Linked DNA regions of Homo sapiens: region 2 is linked to region 1. The links come from fine-mapping of genetic effects on gene expression. A gene starts in region 1. The other region holds a variant in brackets. All regions are shown on one strand. Distances are between the middles of the regions. Region 1 holds the start of GMPPB (GDP-mannose pyrophosphorylase B). Region 2 overlaps IP6K1 (inositol hexakisphosphate kinase 1).

Region 1 (8,292 bases):
TTTGTAGGGGCAGTTGTGGAGCGCACGGGGCGGGAAACCCTCGGAGTCCGGGGTGCCTAACCCAACGCGCAGCATGCAGAGCAGTGTCCCCAGCAGCACCAACCAGGTCATGGCGGCGACCACCAGGGACAGTACAGAGCAGCTCTGTGCAGGTTGCAGTTCCAGGACTCACCCTCTTCTGCTCTAGTGCGACATGGGTGGCACCGGATGGCCCTTGCCGAGGAGGCACGGCGGGTTCTTGCCAGCCGACGGCCCCTACTCTCCGGTTCCCAGGTTGTGAGGCGGTGCGGCACTCTTAGCCGCGCTCCCTTCGGCTTCGCTAGCCCTCTCCAAGCGAGTTCCTGATCGGCTCCTAAATACTCCCCCCAGGGGCGGGGCCCGGGCTCCTATTGGTTCCCGTTTGAGGAGGCGGGGCGGCTACATCCCTTTGTGCCCAATGGCCCCGCATGACCGCCAGATGGGGAGCAAGGCCAACCCCAAAGTCCCCGTCAGCCTTTGGCTGGCAGCTCTCCGCCGCTCGTTTTTCCTCGGGGAGTAAAAGGGGGAGTCTGGAAGAATGTCTCCAAGCTGCTGTTAGTGTTTATTTGAAGTGACTTTGAAGGACTGATAATATTATGGGGCAGGCAGACTCTCACTATCTTAAGGTGGTTCGCCTGAGCCTTCTTAAAGTGGTACCCCAGGCCGGGCGCGGTGGCTCACGCCTGTAATCCCAGCACTTTGGGAAGCCAAGGCAGGTGGATCACCTGAGGTCAGGAATTCGAGACCAGCCTGGCCAACCTGGTGAAACCCTGTCTCTACTAAAAATACAACAATTAGCCGGGCGTGGTGGTGGGCGTCTGCAATTCCAGCTACTCGGGAGGCTAAAGCAGGAGAATCACTTGAACCCGGGAGGTGGAGGTTGCAGTGAGCCGAGATCGTGCCATCGCACTCCAGCCTGGGCAACAGAGCGAGACTCGTCTCAAGAAAAAAAAAAAAAAAACAGGCTGTGTGGCACCTTACTAGAATACAGGACTTGGGGTTTGGGAAGCAGGGAGACGGAAAGGATGCAGGGGGGGTGATCATGTACGAGCCATGGCACTCCTCATTGGCAATCCCAAGAGAGACTTTTAGCCAGGCCCCAAGCCTTCTGACTGCCCTTGCACCCTCCCCTACCTAGGAGAGAGCAAGCCACATCAGTGCTCCTGGCAGATCCCTGCTTCCAGCTACGCTCAATATGCTATCTCCTGGGACAGCCAGAGCCCCCAGCACCTGGCACTGCTCTGCCAGCCCCTGACCGGAAGCGCTTCTCCCTGCAGAGCTGTGAGTGGGCTGGTGGGGCAGGTCAGGGAAATCTGGGGCTGGGTCGGGTCAGGAGCCTTAAGAACAGCAAAGTCCTAGGCTGGGAATATTCAAGAGGCATCACATCCTCAGCTACCTCTGACTTGACACTACCTACCACTCCCCAGATGCGGATTATATCAGTGCCGATGAGCTGGCCCAAGTGGAACAGATGCTGGCGCACCTGACCTCTGCATCTGCCCAGGCAGCAGCTGCCTCCCTGGTGAGTGGGAACACGGTGCACAGGTCCATGCCACTTGAATATGTGTGCACTCCTACACAGGCACAACGGACATCCACATAGCCAGGCATCCAACTCCAGCCCACCCTTCACTCTCCTCCCTGCAGCCCACCAGTGAGGAGGACCTCTGCCCCATCTGCTATGCCCACCCCATCTCTGCTGTGTTCCAGCCCTGTGGCCACAAGTCCTGCAAGTAAGTGGGCCCCACAGCTTGGTGGTGGGGAGAGCAGTAGGTACATGCAGGGCAGTCCTCATCCCCTCCCCTGTTGTAGAGCCTGTATCAACCAGCACCTGATGAACAACAAGGACTGCTTCTTCTGCAAAACCACCATCGTGTCTGTAGAGGACTGGGAGAAGGGAGCCAATACGAGTACTACCTCCTCAGCTGCCTAGCCCTCACAGCCTGTGCCATCCTGGAACCTCCACCTTTGAACCCAGAGCCAGGCTGGGCCCTATTTATGAGCTCCCTTTGCCCTTCTCCTGTATCCCACACCACCACATCCAACCTCCTTGCCTGCCTGTATCCTCATTGGTGGGAGCCCAGCCATGGCCCTAATTGTGCCTGAGCTTGACTTTCAGTCAGGGCCACAGTGAGCATTAAATTATTATTCCATACAGCCCTGGCCCTGGCCCTTCTTGAGGGAGTGGGGTTTGTGGGGTGTGCCCAGCAGGGATCCTGCCAGATGATGTCCACATGAGAAGGCAGGTGTCCAACAGCTTCAGCTTCACCCAGTGCCCCCCAGACAAATAATGACAAGTCCAGGGTCTTCTGATGTGTCAGGCCAGCACTCCCCTTGCTGATGGGAAAACCGGGGCTCGGCCAGCCCCACTGCATCCCCTCACATGATGATACGAGGCTCTGGCACTGACTCGCCAATAGACTTGTGGGGCAGCACGCTGGCTCCGTTGAGGTAGAGCTCATCATTAACTATGACGTCCTCACCCAGCACTGTCACGTTCTCCATGCGTACCTCCAGGAGAGGATAGGCCTTGTCAGGGAGGCAGGCACACTCCCCGCCCCTCTCCCCACCCAGCCCAGCCCACAGGCTTACCCACTGACCCACGCGGCAGCGCCAGCCCACAATGCAGGACTCAAGCCAGGAATGGGAACGGATCCGGGCATCCCGCAGCACCGTGCACCGCCGGATACACACACCATCTTCGACCACCACGCCAGGTCCCAGGCTCACATTGGGGCCAATGCTGCAGTTCTGGCCGATGCGGGCACTTGGGTCCTGAGAGCGGTGGGAAAAATACAAGTGGGCCACTTGTCTCCCAAGACTGAGGGGGTTAATGATGGGCTGGGCAAGGGCCTCACCACCAGCACGTTGCCCACAATGCCAGGGCCTGAGCACAGCCGCTCAGGCTGCTTCTGCCTCAGTGACTGCAGGAAGAGGCACATGCCAGTGAGGAAGTCCTTGGGCTGCCCAATGTCCATCCAGAAGCCTGTAGGGAGGGATGCATCAGGGGCCTCAGCCCAGCCACAGACCACCCCCACCCTGTGGCCTCCCTGCCTCACCCTGTAACTCCATGGCATATAGCTGCCCCTCCTTGGCCATAATGGGGAAGACCTCCTTCTCAATGGACGTAGGCTGCAGCTGTGGGAGTGGGCAGCTTGTGAGCAGGGTCATGGCGGTGATGGCCTGCCCCACCCCAGCCCACCAACAGCTGTCTCCTACACACCTGGATGCGCTGCAGCACTGCAGGGCTCAGGATGTACATGCCTGCGTTGATCTTATTGGACACAAACACCTGTGGCTTCTCCACGAACCGGTGAATGCGGCCTGTGTCAGCCTCACACACCACCACACCGTACTTGGAGGGTTCCTCCACCTTGGTCACCTGAATGCAAGGAAGGGGACCTCGGACCTAGTCCAGTGTTCCTAAGCCTTGATACACATGCCGTTCCAGATCTCAAGAGACTCTGCCCCAAGTGCTTAAAGATACATACTGCACAGCTCTGTATCCATAACATCCGAAGGCAGATGAAGGCTAGGGGGCATGGGAGGCTGGGCATGGAGGGTGAAAGTGTCAAGAGAGAGAAGACCTGGCGCCTTACCAGGATGGAGCCCTCCTGGCCATGGTGCCGGTGGAACTGCACCATGGCTTGGAAGGGGAAATCGCAGATCACGTCACTGTTGAGGACGAAGAAAGGGTCTGCAGTCTCAGAGAGTAGGTCACGGGCCAGCGCCAGGGGCCCAGCTGGGGGAAGGGGACAGGTCACCACCTTGCTGGAGGTCTGAGTCCCTGGATTCAGGCTCAGCAGGCCCACTCCAGGCTGGGTCTTACCCTTTTCCTGGCCTTAAACCCTCCCCCAAGGGACCTTTCTGCCTCTACTGACCTGTCCCCAAAGGCTCCTCTTCATGGGACATGGAGATTCGGATTCCCAGCTGGAAGGAAGAGGCCCCCCCAGTCAGGTTCTACCAGGATGGGAAGTTGGGCGGGGACCGAGAATAAGGGCCAAGAGTCTGTGCCTCACCCTCTGCTCCTGTGCCTTCATTTCCTTCTCCAGCACCTGCGACATGTAGCTCACGGCCAGGATCACGTGGTCCACGCCTGCCTGTCAGAACGCAGGCCGACGGGCGGGCTCAGTCAGAAGGTACGGGAGCCCCTGACCCCTAGTCGCTGGCCATCCCTAGTCCCGCCAGATCCGAACGCGACTCTGATCCCGACCCAGGGTCTTACCGCGGCTAGCGCCTCCACTTGGTGCAGCAAGATGGGCTTATTGCAGAAGTCCACCAGTGGCTTCGGGGTGCTCAGCGTCAGCGGCCGTAGCCGCGTCCCATAGCCCCCCACTAAGATCAGTGCCTTCATCGCGCCTGCGGACGTTGAGGGGGTGTCCCGGGCTCTGAGGTGCCTGCAGCCCGCCTGGCCGGTCCCTGCCGCGCACTCCCAACGCCGTGCCCGGCCCCGCGCCCTTCACCAACCCGCCTGACAGACTCTGGCTCCACCTCGTCCGCCCGGTCGCCCTGACGCCGGATCCAGGGCCGCCACAACACAGAACGCGACACCGGGTAGACGGCTGCTGGCCCCGAACTCAGGCCGGACCCGGCGCGGGCAGTGACGCGACCACCGCGGGCCAATCGGCTGCCGCGTACGTGGCACGGCCGCCGGCGTCGGAACGTTGGAGCGCAGCGCTGCGACAGACGTAGCCAATGAGCGCCCGAGTACGCCGGGCTGCCATGGAGACCCGGGCCGGGACCCGCGGGTCAGCTGGCCATTGGCGGATCCAAAGGCGGAACTGGCGCCAAGGGCGAGGCCTTGTTCCCTGCTTCGCCGCGGTCCAGCAGCCGCCGGCCCCGCCCCACGGCCCCGGCCTCGCCCCGAGGGTGACCAGGGAAGGCTCCCGGGCCACGGGATTTTCACAAAGACAGACTCGCCTCCGTTTCTAGCGGCTTTATTTTTGACATACACGACCTCAGACACAAGCGGGGCGGGCAGCGCTAGGTGTACAGAAAGGAGCGGGCTCGGACCGAGCACCCCCTCCCCCGCACGCAAGGTCCAAAGCAAACGCAACTGCGGCGGGAGCCACCGGCGCAGGCCTCGGGCGGTGGAGACAGGCTTAGCTTCCAGGAAAGAGCAGCAGAGAGCGATTCCCAGAACGCGAGGGCTTACAGTTCCCCGAGAAGCAAAAGAACCAGGTCCTTCCCAGGGTTCTCCATTATTTTTTCCTCATTAAAATATATTTTAAGTCAGCACAAACATAACCAAATTGTACAGCTTTAAAGTTCAAAGCAGTCTGCATCTAGGGAACGTGCATGTGGTCAGGAGTGAGCGCGTGAGCAGCGGCTACGTAACTAGCACAGGTGCCAGGCCCCTTGATGGGAATCCCCATGCTCACTGCACAGGCCCAGAGAGGGAGGGGTGGGGTCCCTGGCAAGTTGCTACACTGGTCCCCTTCCTCTTTTAAGCACCACCCGTCCCACCCCACCCTCAGGGGCTGGTGTCAGCTTGGCCCAGGGAAGCACTATAGAGAGGGCTCACCTGAGCACCCCAACCCATGATCCCATGTTGCACTTTGTTCCCAAGTTGGGGCTAAGAAGGCTGGGCCTGGCAGGGACAGGGCTCTCTGGCATGGGGCAGGGAGAAAGCAGTGGCAGACAGTATGCACACACACTTGCCCACTACCATTAAATAACAGGGCTGGGTCTCCAGGTGTCCAAAGTGCTGAAAAGAGGGGCCCTGCTCTAAGGGAGCAGCAGCAAATCCCAGGCCTTCCCACTCTTTGTAGTGCCAGGAAAATACTGAATGTAAGTGGGTGCAGCTTTGCTCGCTGTGAGGAGCAGCAGAATGCGGCAGCCTCTCCTCCCAGAATCGAGGAATCTGGGAGGCACAGGACATCCCCAAAAGGTCCCAAACAGTTCCAGACCCTATGTCTTACCCTCCACCCTACCAGGGAATGACTATCTACACTAATGAAGGGCTACTGCCCCCATGGCTGAAGCCACAGAATGGTACAGGAGAGAAGACTGTAATTTGTGACCAGAAACAGGCAAGCTGTCCCTCCCAGCCCCAAAGAATGGGAACCTGCCCACCAGTGGCACCAGGGCTGGGGGCTAGGAGAGATGGCATCCATCAAGGAGCCCTTAAGAGGCTGCATCTTTAAGGACCAGGAAATGAGTCCATCAGTTACCAAGGCTTCTCACAGCTGGCAGGCTTACCTTTAAAGCCAAACAGGCACTTGCCTAAAGTGACAATGAACAGTGTGGCCCTAGGCTCAAAGGAGAGGGTGCTAACCTTGGCAATGGCTGAAATCGGTGTCACCTCCTGGCCATCTGTTAGAAGCAGCAGATCTGTGCCATTAAGGGCTGGCAGCCAAAATGACTAAAACCATGAGAAAGGAAGGGTCACTCCTCAAGCCCTCACTGCCCCACTCTAAGGGTTGAGGGCCATATTCTAGGCCCACAGAAATGGTGCTGGGTCAACAGGGAAACACCAATTTATTCTGCTATCAGGTCTTTATAAAAAGGCAACACCTGTGGAGGAAGGGCATGGGGCAAAAGCTCACCTCAGAAGTGGAAGTGTTCTGCTGAGGAAAGCATGAAGGAATGAGTATATACTAATGAACAAGGCTACACCCCAGGGGAAGGATCCCAAGGGACGGGCTGGCAGCCGGACACATGGACAAACTGATGGACCCAGGACTGATCAGACAAAGCTCTCATTAGCAGAATGTGGGCACCTGCACCCAGGGCCCATACCACGTCCCTGTGAGCAAAAAAGCTTAAAGTTCTCCCTCCAGGCCCAGGGCCAAGAGCGCCTCACAAAGGGCTGCTGCCTTGAACTTGGCCTGGGGAAATGAGACCCTGAGCGGACCACAGCCCTTGAGCCCTGGGAGGAGCAGCCCATCCAGCAGCAGCACAGCTGCCGAAACTTGAGGAAGAAGACTCCCACCCATAGCACAAGAACTGCAAATACTGTCTGGGCCAGAGCCACCAGAGGCCCTGAGGCCTGCTAGGACACCGACTATCCCCCACTTCAGTGGGGTGGGAGGGAGTGGCCTTCTTAGGCAAGGGAACTTGGTGAGAGAGGCTGTTTCAGGAATAGGACAGGTGCCAACCTGTCACGTGCCAACAGGTGCCTGGGGAACCCAGGCGCCGCCCTCTGCCATAAGTTGGCCTCAGCCCAGCTTCATTAATCTAGCCCCATGCTAAGGTCAGACCGAAGGATGGGTCCAGCTTTGTGCAGTCAGCCCTGTGGTGCCCTGAGGGCACCTATTAAAGAGCTAGCTGACACCCACAGCATAAGACTGGAAAGCCCCCAAGAAATGGGCACCCAGAGCCCTCTACTTCTGGGGAACAAGGGAAGAGTGGGCGTGGAGGGGCCCTGCACCAGCCCAGGGCTTTACCTTACAATCAGCAGGGCCCTGCAGCCACAGATCTCAAAGATCTAGACAAGAGAAACCAATGTCCAAGGGCACCCTGTCCCTGCTGCCAAGCCCACCAGGGGCACCTCTTCCTTCCTAAGGCAGCCTGGACACACCAGTCAGAGCCACAAAGCTGAGGAGCCTGGCTGAGAGGGCGTGTGGTCTGCCCTCCTTCACTTTATATATATGGATTCCAGGCTACAGCTAAAAACATTTCTTTTAGTTTACACCAAAGAGAAATATAACCCTTTAAAAGCAAGTCTGTGTGTCCTCACGGCAAGTTCAGAACAATGGTCCCTGCCTGCAGTGGAGAGGAAGGGGTTCTGGGGGCCCAGAACAGGGCCTACTGGTTCTCGTCCCGCATCTGTTCCATGATGCTGATGAGGTTCTCCAGGCCAAACACGTAGCCTCTGTCTGGCCCATCATGCACGGTGGGGTCATCCCGGAAGCCCTTGAATGTGCTGTGTGCAAAGTCAATCATGCGGACATCCACCTTGGGCTGAGAGGAGGGACCCGCCTCGGGGCTGGTGTTGCTGGGGCTGGTGCTGGGGCCACAGGATGACGCCACCTCAGGGAGCACCATGTCCAGGTGCTTGAGACGCATCTCAGACCGGCGGTCCAGGCAGGACTCAGCCCGGCACTCCTTGCCATCATAGATGACAAGCAGGGAACTGGAGTAGAAGCGGTAAGAGGCCTGCCGCTCCAGCACAGCTTTCAGGCCCCGCAGTTTGCTCAGGATAGGCTCAAACAGGTCACGTCGCAGGTCCAGGCCATTGTGCAGATATTGATAGAGGGCATTGCGGAAGCCTTCAATGGAGAGCCCACGGCCATAGTACTTGTTCCTGCAGAGGTAATGCCCTGTGTCCAG
Region 2 (8,323 bases), 51 kb after region 1:
CTGGGCCACTTCTGAATTCCTAGCCCTCAGAAACTGAGGTAATAACTGTTTGCTGTTTTAAACTGCTAAGTTTTGGAATAATTTGTTACAGAGCAATAGATAATACACAAGTCTTTTCAACAAATGTTGCTAGTAATGGAACAATCAGTTATCTATGTGGGGGAAAAAGAAACACCAGCCCCAATCTCACACAATAACAAAAATTAACTTAGGATGACTCAGAGACCAAAATGTAAAAGCTAAAACTAGAAAGCTTGTAGGTGAAAACACAAAAAATAAAGTTAGGCTGGGCATGGTGGCTCATACCTATAATACCAGCACTTTGGGAGGCCAAGGTGTGCAGAGCTCACCTGTAGTCTTAGCTACGCGGGAGGCTGAAGTGGGAGAATGGCTTGAGCCCAGGAAGTGGAGGGTGTAGTGAGCGGAGATCATGCCACTGCACTCCAGCCTGGGTGACAGAACCAGACCCTGTCTCAAAAAAAATAAAGTTATATGATTTACACTACCTGACTTCAAGCCTTGCTAGAAATGTCCAACACTTAAGAGGTAGGCAAGGTGTCCTCAGACACTCAGACAGAACACAGAAAGCAATAACCATAACAGAAATTATTGATAAATCGGACTTCATCAAAATTGAAAACCTCTGATTATTTATTTATGAGATGGAGTCTTGATCACACCCGTATTCCTAGCATCTTGTGAGGCCCAGGCAAGAGGAATGCTTGAGGTCAGGAGTTCAGGATCAGCCTGGGCAAATATGCTGAGACCTCCGTTGCTACAAAAAATTTTTAAAAAGAAAATAAGCTGGGCATGGTAGTATGCACATGTAGTCCTAGCTACTAGGGAGGCTGAGGCAGGAGGGTCGTTTAAGCCCAGGAGTTAGAGGGTACACTAAGTTATGATCACGCTACTACACTCCAGCCTGGGCAACAGAGCAAGACCCTGTCTCTAAAAAAACAAAACAAAAAACAAAAAATATAGTATCCAGAATACAAAAAAACTTCCTAAAACTCAGTAACAAAAAAAAAAAAAAAAAAAAAAAACCCTGCCAGGCACAGTGGTGAACACCTATAGTCCCAGCTACTTGAGAGGATGAGGCAGAAGGATCCTTTGAGCCCAGAAGTTCAAGTCCAGCTTGGGCAACATAGGGAGGCCCTATCTCTAAAAGATACATTTCTTTAAAAAATAAAAAAGCCAATTTTAAAAAAAAATGGGCAACAGATTTGAATACATACTTCACAAACGAAGATACACAAAGACCATTAAGTACAGGAAAAGGTGCTCAATATCATTAGCATTCAGGTAAGTGAAAATTAAAACCACAATGAGTTACCACTATACTTTCACCCAAATGGCTAAAATTAAAAACACACTACAACACACTTAATGTTGCTAAATGTGGAACAACCACAACTCTCATACATTACTGGTGAGAGTGTAAAAATGGTACAACCATTTTGGAAAAGGTATTATAGTTTCCTATAAAGCTAAACATACATCTATCCTATGACCCAGCAATTCTAGTCTCTTCAAGAGAAATGAATGTGTATGTCCACACAAAAAACCTTTGCAAAAAAGTTCATAAAAGCTTTACTCATAAGGCAAACACTGGAAACAGCCCAAATATCTATCAACAGAATAAACAAACTGTAGTGTTAATGCAATGAAATACTATATAGCAATAAAAATAAACTACTGATACAGACAACAGCATGTATAAATTAAAACACTACACTGTGTGAAAGAAACCTTACTCAAGAGTGGCCAGGCGTGGTGGCTCACACCTGTAATCCCAACACTTTGCGAGGCCAAAGAGGGAGGATCGCTTGAGCCCAAGAGTTTGAGACCAACCTGGGCAACATGGCAAGACCTCTACAGAAAATTTTTTTAATTAGCTGGGTGCAGCAGTGCACACCTGTAGTCCCAGCTACTTGGGAAGCTGAGGTGGGAAGATCCCTTGAGCCCAAGGTGGGTTCAAGGTGGCAGTGAGCTATAATTGCACCACTGTACTCCAGCCTGGGTGACAAAACAAGACCCTTTCCCTTAAAAAAAAAAATATATATATATATATATGTGTGTGTGTGTGTAACACATATATATGTAATATATATGTTATATAGTCTTCCTTTTTAACTTAATATATTTTATATATATAATATATAGGAAGACTATATAATATATAAAATATATATATATAGAAGGCTATATATACATATATTGTCTTCTTATATTCTAGAGCGTTCTCTTTTTTGAGACAGGGTCTTACTCTGTTACCCAGGCTAAAGTGCAGTGGCACGATCATGATTCACTGCAGCCTCCATCTCCTGGTCTCAAGCAATCCTCCCATCTCAGCCTCTCTAGTAGCTGGGACTATAGGCACATGCTGCCACACCCAGCTAATTTTTTTATTTTTTGTAGAGACAAGGTTTCACCATGTTGCCCAGGCTGGTCTCAAACTCCTGGACTCAAGTGATCCTTCCATCTCAGCCTCCCAAAGTGCTGGGATTACAGGCATGAGCCACCACACCCAGCCTCTCTCTACTTCTGACTAGCCAATTTCTCATTACTCCAGTCTCTGTTACAGTTAATAATTCTTTTTTTTTTTTACATAGAGACAGGGTCTCACTACGTTGCCCAGGCTGGTCTTGAACTCTTGAGCTTTTTTTTTTTTTTAAAGACAGAGTCTCACTCTCACCCAGGCAGGAGTGCAGTGGTATGATCACTGCTCACTGCAGCCTCCAACTCCTATGCTCAAGTGATCCTCCTACCTCAGCCTCCCCAGTTGCTGGAATTTTAGGCATGTCCCACCATGCCCAGCTAATTGTTTATTTTTTGGTAGATAAGCGGGCCTTGCTGGGTTGTCCAGGCTGGTTTTGAACTTCTAAGCTTAACTGATCCTCCTGCCTCAGCCTCTCAAAGTGCTGGAATTACAGGCATGAGCCATTGCACCTGGCCAATTAATAATTTTGTATATAGTCCCAATTCTACCAATGAAAAGTAATACTGTAAACAGTCAAGTTAATATGCTTAAGGGTCCAAGTGGTCCTGCCTGGTACACTCTGCTTCATGAAATTACTCAAACTTAATATGGGCTCCCTGGCACCAAGGTCAGCACTTACTTTAGAGACACCTGCAAAATATGTAAGATAGCCACATACTGGCCGGGCGCGGTGGCTCACGCCTGTAATCCCAGCACTTTGGGAGGCCGAGGTGGGTGGATCACAAGGTCAGGATATCGAGACCATCCTGGCTAACACAGTGAAACCCCATCTCTACTAAAAAATACAAAAAATTAGCTGGGCGTGGTGGCGGGCGCCTGTAGTCCCAGCTACTTAGGAGGCTGAGGCAGGAGAATGGCATGACCCTGGGAGGCGGAGCCTGCAGTGAGCCAGTGAGCCGAGATCGCACCACTGCACTCCAGCCTGGGCAACAGAGCAAGACTCC[G/A]TCTCAAAAATTAATAAATAAAAAAGATAGCCACATATTTTATAATACATCTTCCCAAATAGAGAAGAAGCTTTTTAATATTCATTATATTTTCTATGCTAGTGAACTCACTTTAATTTTTGCTGCACTGTCTCCAGGTAAAGTACCAAAAACAGTAAACCAAAATAGCCTATGTATATCCTGCCTAGCATGCTGCTTGACCCTGATCCATACAACATCTTCAAGTTGAGCATAAGTCTTTATAAATAAGTTTCAGAATATTCACTAGCTAGGCATGGTGGTATACATGGGAGGCTGAGGCAGCAGGATCACTTGAGCCCAGGAATTCGAGACCAGCATGAGTAACATTAGCAAGACTCTCTCTAAAACACACACACACACACACACACACACACACACACACACAACACACACATAAAACCAGAATACTCACCACCAAACCAATTTTTTGTCCGAATTGCAACTATAAAGTCTCCAAATTAGTCAGGGACCATTAAATTTAAATTTGCAGGCCGGGCACAGTGGCTCATGCCTGTAATCCCAGCACTTTGGGAGGCCAAGGCAGGCGGATCATGAGGTTAGGAGGATCGAGAACATCCTGGCTAACATGGTGAAACCCCATCTCTACTAAAAATACAAAAAAAATTAGCCGGGTGCGGTGGCGGGTGCCTGTAGTCCCAGCTACTCGAGAAGCTGAGGCAGGAGAATGGCGTGAACCCAGGAGGTGGAGCTTGCAGTGAGCTGAGATAGTGCCACTGCAGTCCAGCCTGGGCGAAAGAGCTAGACTCCATCTCAAAAAAAAAAAAAAAAAAAAAAGAAAAAAAAAATTTAAGTACTTACATGATCAAATACATATTGAGTATCTACAGAGTAAGACCATGTAGTATATTATTACTAACAAGACAAAAATAATTCCTGCCTTCAGAGAACTGAAAGTCAGTATGGCCCAAGAAGTTAATGGTAAAACAATGAAATATTACAAATTCAGCTATGCATAATAGGTGACCTGTGGAAATGACTTTTAATGGGAGAGGGAATTTAAGGGATGAATACTTATCAACAAAAGCACTGTCTGTGGCTCCCAGACATTAAAGTCTAGAACACTTAGCTAGGGCTCTGACACAAGAAACTATACAGTCAATTCTCATTATTGATGGTAATTATGTTTTATAAAGTCATTGTGTACACTGAGTTATTGAATACTGAGTCACTGCACCTAGACAAAATAAATGGTTAAGTTCCTGTAGGCCTCTGGTCATAATTTCTTTTTTTTTTTGTTTAATAAACTCTCAGCCAGTAGAAGATGATCTAGTCATATTTTCATTAACCAATTAATATACAACCTTCCAGATCTACATACATACAATATAAAACCTTTTAGGTATGTTTCTATTTAAAAACACCTTATTTAATATAAATAACTGATTCATTAACACTGAACTATAGTTAACAGCATTATAACTCATGCCTGAACAAAACTTCCCTACACATTCCTTGTAAGGTAATCAAAGCCTTCTTGTGTTTAAAAACACCAGGCAGCACTTCAATACGTTTGGGGGCCATTTTAAGCATCAAAATCACCAACAAGGCCAGGCGCAGTGGCTAACAACCTGTAAGCAGTCTCGAAAAAATAAAAAAATAGGCTTCTAGCGGCCGGCTTCATTGGGAACTATGGCTAAACATCATCCTAATTTGATCTTTTGCTGCAAGCCAGCTGGTGTTGTCATTGGAAGATTGTGTGAAAAATGTGACAGCAAGTGTGTGATTTGTGACTTTGTGCGTCCCTGCACTCTGGTGTGCTATGTGATGAGTGTAACTACGTATCTTAGCAGGGGTGCCGTGTGATCTGTGGAGGCCCTGGGGTCTCTGGTGCCTATTACTGTAAGGAGTGCACCATCTAGGAGAAGGATAGAGATGGCTGCCCAAAGATTGTCAATTTGGGGAGCTCTAAGACAGACCTCTTCTACGAACACAAAAAAATGCAGCTTCAAGAAGAGGTGATTGGTGGGTGGCCCCTTCCTCCCCACAACATCAAGCTGCTGCAGCGGCTAGAAAAGATGCCTGCTACTCCCGGCAGAAAGGGAGCAGAGCCCAGAGCATCACCAGGAGTGCCTGCTAGTGTCCTGGCAGCTTACCAACCCTCCCCTCCCTTCACCCAGACATGTGGTAGGGATGGAAAAGGATTCTTCACAGAGCACTCTGGCACACTGTATTGGAGAAAAATTGATAGATTAGTTAATGGTTTTTCTTGAATTTGAGAAGCAAAGATCTGTTCTCCATATTGATATGTTCTCCCTCAACCAAGATCTTCTAAGAAATAATATTTTAGTCTTCTGCTTGAGGAGTTGACTGTGAAGCTACACCCAGTGAAAAACATGATCTTGCAGCAGCTCTGGTGGCAGCTGTCCTTGAAGAACCTTTGGTGTATGGTGGGAAGCTATCAGAACAAGAAATGTAGCCATTTACTCTTTTAACACTTGCGCTATTGTCATGTTATTTTCCTTCTGAGAAATTGGAAACCCTTTCTGTTGCTATTACATTAATAAAGTTAGTGTTTATTTTCTGGTAAAATAAATAAAAATGAAAATAAACATTAAAAATCACCAACAAAAAGTAAATCAGGACAGGTGCAGTGGCACACGCGTGTAATCCCAGCACTTTGGGAGGCCGAGATGGGCAGATCACTTGAAGCCAGGAGCTCGAGGCCAGCCTGGACAACATGGTGAAACCTCATCTCTACTAAAAATACAAAAATTAGCCAGGCATGGTGGTGCATGTCTGTAATCCCAACTATTCGCGAGGCTGAGGCAGGAAAATTACTTGAACCTGGGAGGCGGAGGTTGCAGTGAGCCGAGATAGCACCACTGCACTCTAGCCTGGGTGACAGGGCAAGACTCAGTCTCAGTAAAAAAAAAAAGCAAATAAATGCAAAAAACCATGGTACTAAATAGACCAAGAAAAGGACACTTATTTACAGTATGATAATTGAAAAGAAGGCAGCAGCATGTTGCCTTGTTTAACCTCAGCTAGGAACACACAACTCAAAATTTTTGTCACTCTGTGCACATCTATAAATGATAGCAAAAGCACCAAAAGTACTGATTTTGGGGTTACAAGTAAATTTTAGCAGGTCTGCAAACTTGAAAATACAAACTCTGTGAATAATGAGGATCGACTGTATATTAATATGATTCCATTTATGTGAAACTTCTAAGAAACGCAAATTTAATCTACAGTGATAGAAAGATTGGCACCTGTCTGTGTCCAAGAAAGCAGGCTGGGGTTGACTGGAAAGGGAAATAAGAGTACCTTCTATGACTAACTGACATCTTTTCACTGGGCCGGGCACAGTGGCGCATGCCTGTAATCCCAGCACTTGGGGAGGCCAAGGTGGATGGATCACTTGAGGTCAGGAGTTCGAGACAAGCCTGGTCAACATGGCAAAACCCCATCTCTACTAAAAAAATCAAGAATCAGTCCATTGTGGTGGCACATGCCTGTAATCCCTGCTACTCTGGAGGCTGAGGCACAAAAATCACTTGAACCTAGGAGGCGGAGGTTGCAGTGAGCCAAGATGGCACCACTGCACCCCAATCAGGGTGACAGAGCAAGACTCTGTCTCCAAAAACAGAAATCTTTTCAATGAAGTGAAATAGACATCTGTTGGGCCAGGTGCAGTGGTTCATGCCTGTAATCCCAACACCTTGGGAGGCCGAGGTGGATGGATTGCCTGAGGTCAAGAGATCGAAACCATCCTGGCTAACACAGTGAAACCCCATCTCTACTAAAAATACAAAAAATTAGCCGGGCGTGGTGGCACATGCCTGTACTCCCAGCTACTCGGGAGGCTGAGGCAGGAGAATCACTTGAACCTGGGAGGTGGAGGTTACAGTGAGTGGAGATTGCGCCACTGCACTCCAGCCTGTGAGACAGAGCGAGACTCTATCTCAAAAAAAAAAGAAAAAAAGAAAAATTATACCACAATAAAGTTGGAAATTTCTTTAAAAACAATGATAAAGGGCCAGGCGTGGTGGCTCACGCCTGTAATCCCAGCACTTTGGGAAGCCGAGATGGGCGGATCACAAGGTCAGGAGATCGAGACCATCCTGGCTAACATGGTGAAACCTTGTCTCTACTAAAAATACAAAAAAATTAGCCGGGCGTGGTGGCAGGCGCCTGTAGTCCCAGCTACTCGGGAGGCGAAGGCAGGAGAATGGCGTGAACCCGGGAGGCGGAGCTTGCAGTGAGCTGAGATCGCGCCACGCACTCCAGCCTGGGCGACAGAGCGAGACTCTGTGGCAAACAAACAAACAAAAAAAACAATGATAAAGCATAAAGGTCAAAGATCAGAGATCAGCTGGCCATTTCTGGTGTGCAGGGGATTTTCTTTAACAGTGAAATGACTTTTTTTTTTTAAGACGGGGTCTCTCAGCTGGGTGTGGTGGCTCACACCTGTAATCCCAGCACTTTGGGAGGCCAAGGCGAGTGGATCACAAGGTCAGGAGATCGAGACCATCCTGGCCAACATGGTGAAACCCCGTCTGTACTAAAAATACAAAAATTAGCCGAGCGTGCTGGCACATGCCTGTAAATCCCAGCTACTTGGGAGGCTGAGGCAGGAGAATCACTTGAACCCTGGAGGTGGAGGTTGCAGTGAACTGAGATCGCGCCACTGCACTCCAGCCTGGGCAACAAGAGTGAGACTCGGTCTCAAAAAAAAAAAAAAGGCAGGGTCTTGGCAAGGTGTGGTGGCTCATGCCTGTAATCCCGGCATTTTGGGAGGCCAAGGCAGGTGGATGGCTTGAGGTCAGGAGGTCAAGACTAGCCTGGCCAACACGGTGAAACTTCGTCTCTACTAAAAATACAAAAATTAGCTGGG

Evidence for each region. PIP is the estimated chance that this variant, and not a neighbour inherited with it, causes the effect.
Region 2: its variant is fine-mapped to the expression of GMPPB in esophagus mucosa (GTEx, PIP 0.97).

What each region holds. Positions count from the first base shown.
Region 1 is chr3:49,719,355-49,727,646 of GRCh38, forward strand. It overlaps GMPPB (GDP-mannose pyrophosphorylase B), which reads right to left and starts at 4,597. Exons shown (of 9, transcript NM_021971.4): 1 at 4,244-4,597; 2 at 4,038-4,118; 3 at 3,900-3,948; 4 at 3,618-3,760; 5 at 3,242-3,400; 6 at 3,078-3,156; 7 at 2,877-3,004; 8 at 2,611-2,793; 9 at 562-2,529. The coding sequence starts at 4,372. The coding sequence ends at 2,398. RNF123 (ring finger protein 123) reads left to right here. Exons shown (of 39, transcript NM_022064.5): 36 at 1,157-1,299; 37 at 1,446-1,540; 38 at 1,666-1,751; 39 at 1,831-2,175. The coding sequence ends at 1,951. It overlaps AMIGO3 (adhesion molecule with Ig like domain 3), which reads right to left and starts at 330. Exons shown (of 1, transcript NM_198722.3): 1 at 1-330. The coding sequence starts at 111. IP6K1 (inositol hexakisphosphate kinase 1) reads right to left here. Exons shown (of 6, transcript NM_153273.4): 6 at 4,940-8,292. The coding sequence ends at 7,768. RefSeq lists enhancers at 1-103, 465-694, 3,901-4,000 and silencers at 1,689-1,866, 4,641-5,090.
Region 2 is chr3:49,770,170-49,778,492 of GRCh38, forward strand. The region is part of intron 1 of IP6K1 (inositol hexakisphosphate kinase 1); the gene reads right to left. It also overlaps the pseudogene PHF5AP3. Among named protein-coding and RNA genes, the nearest start is that of IP6K1, 12 kb to the right of the region's middle. The variant G/A (reference allele first, on the strand shown) is at 3,445.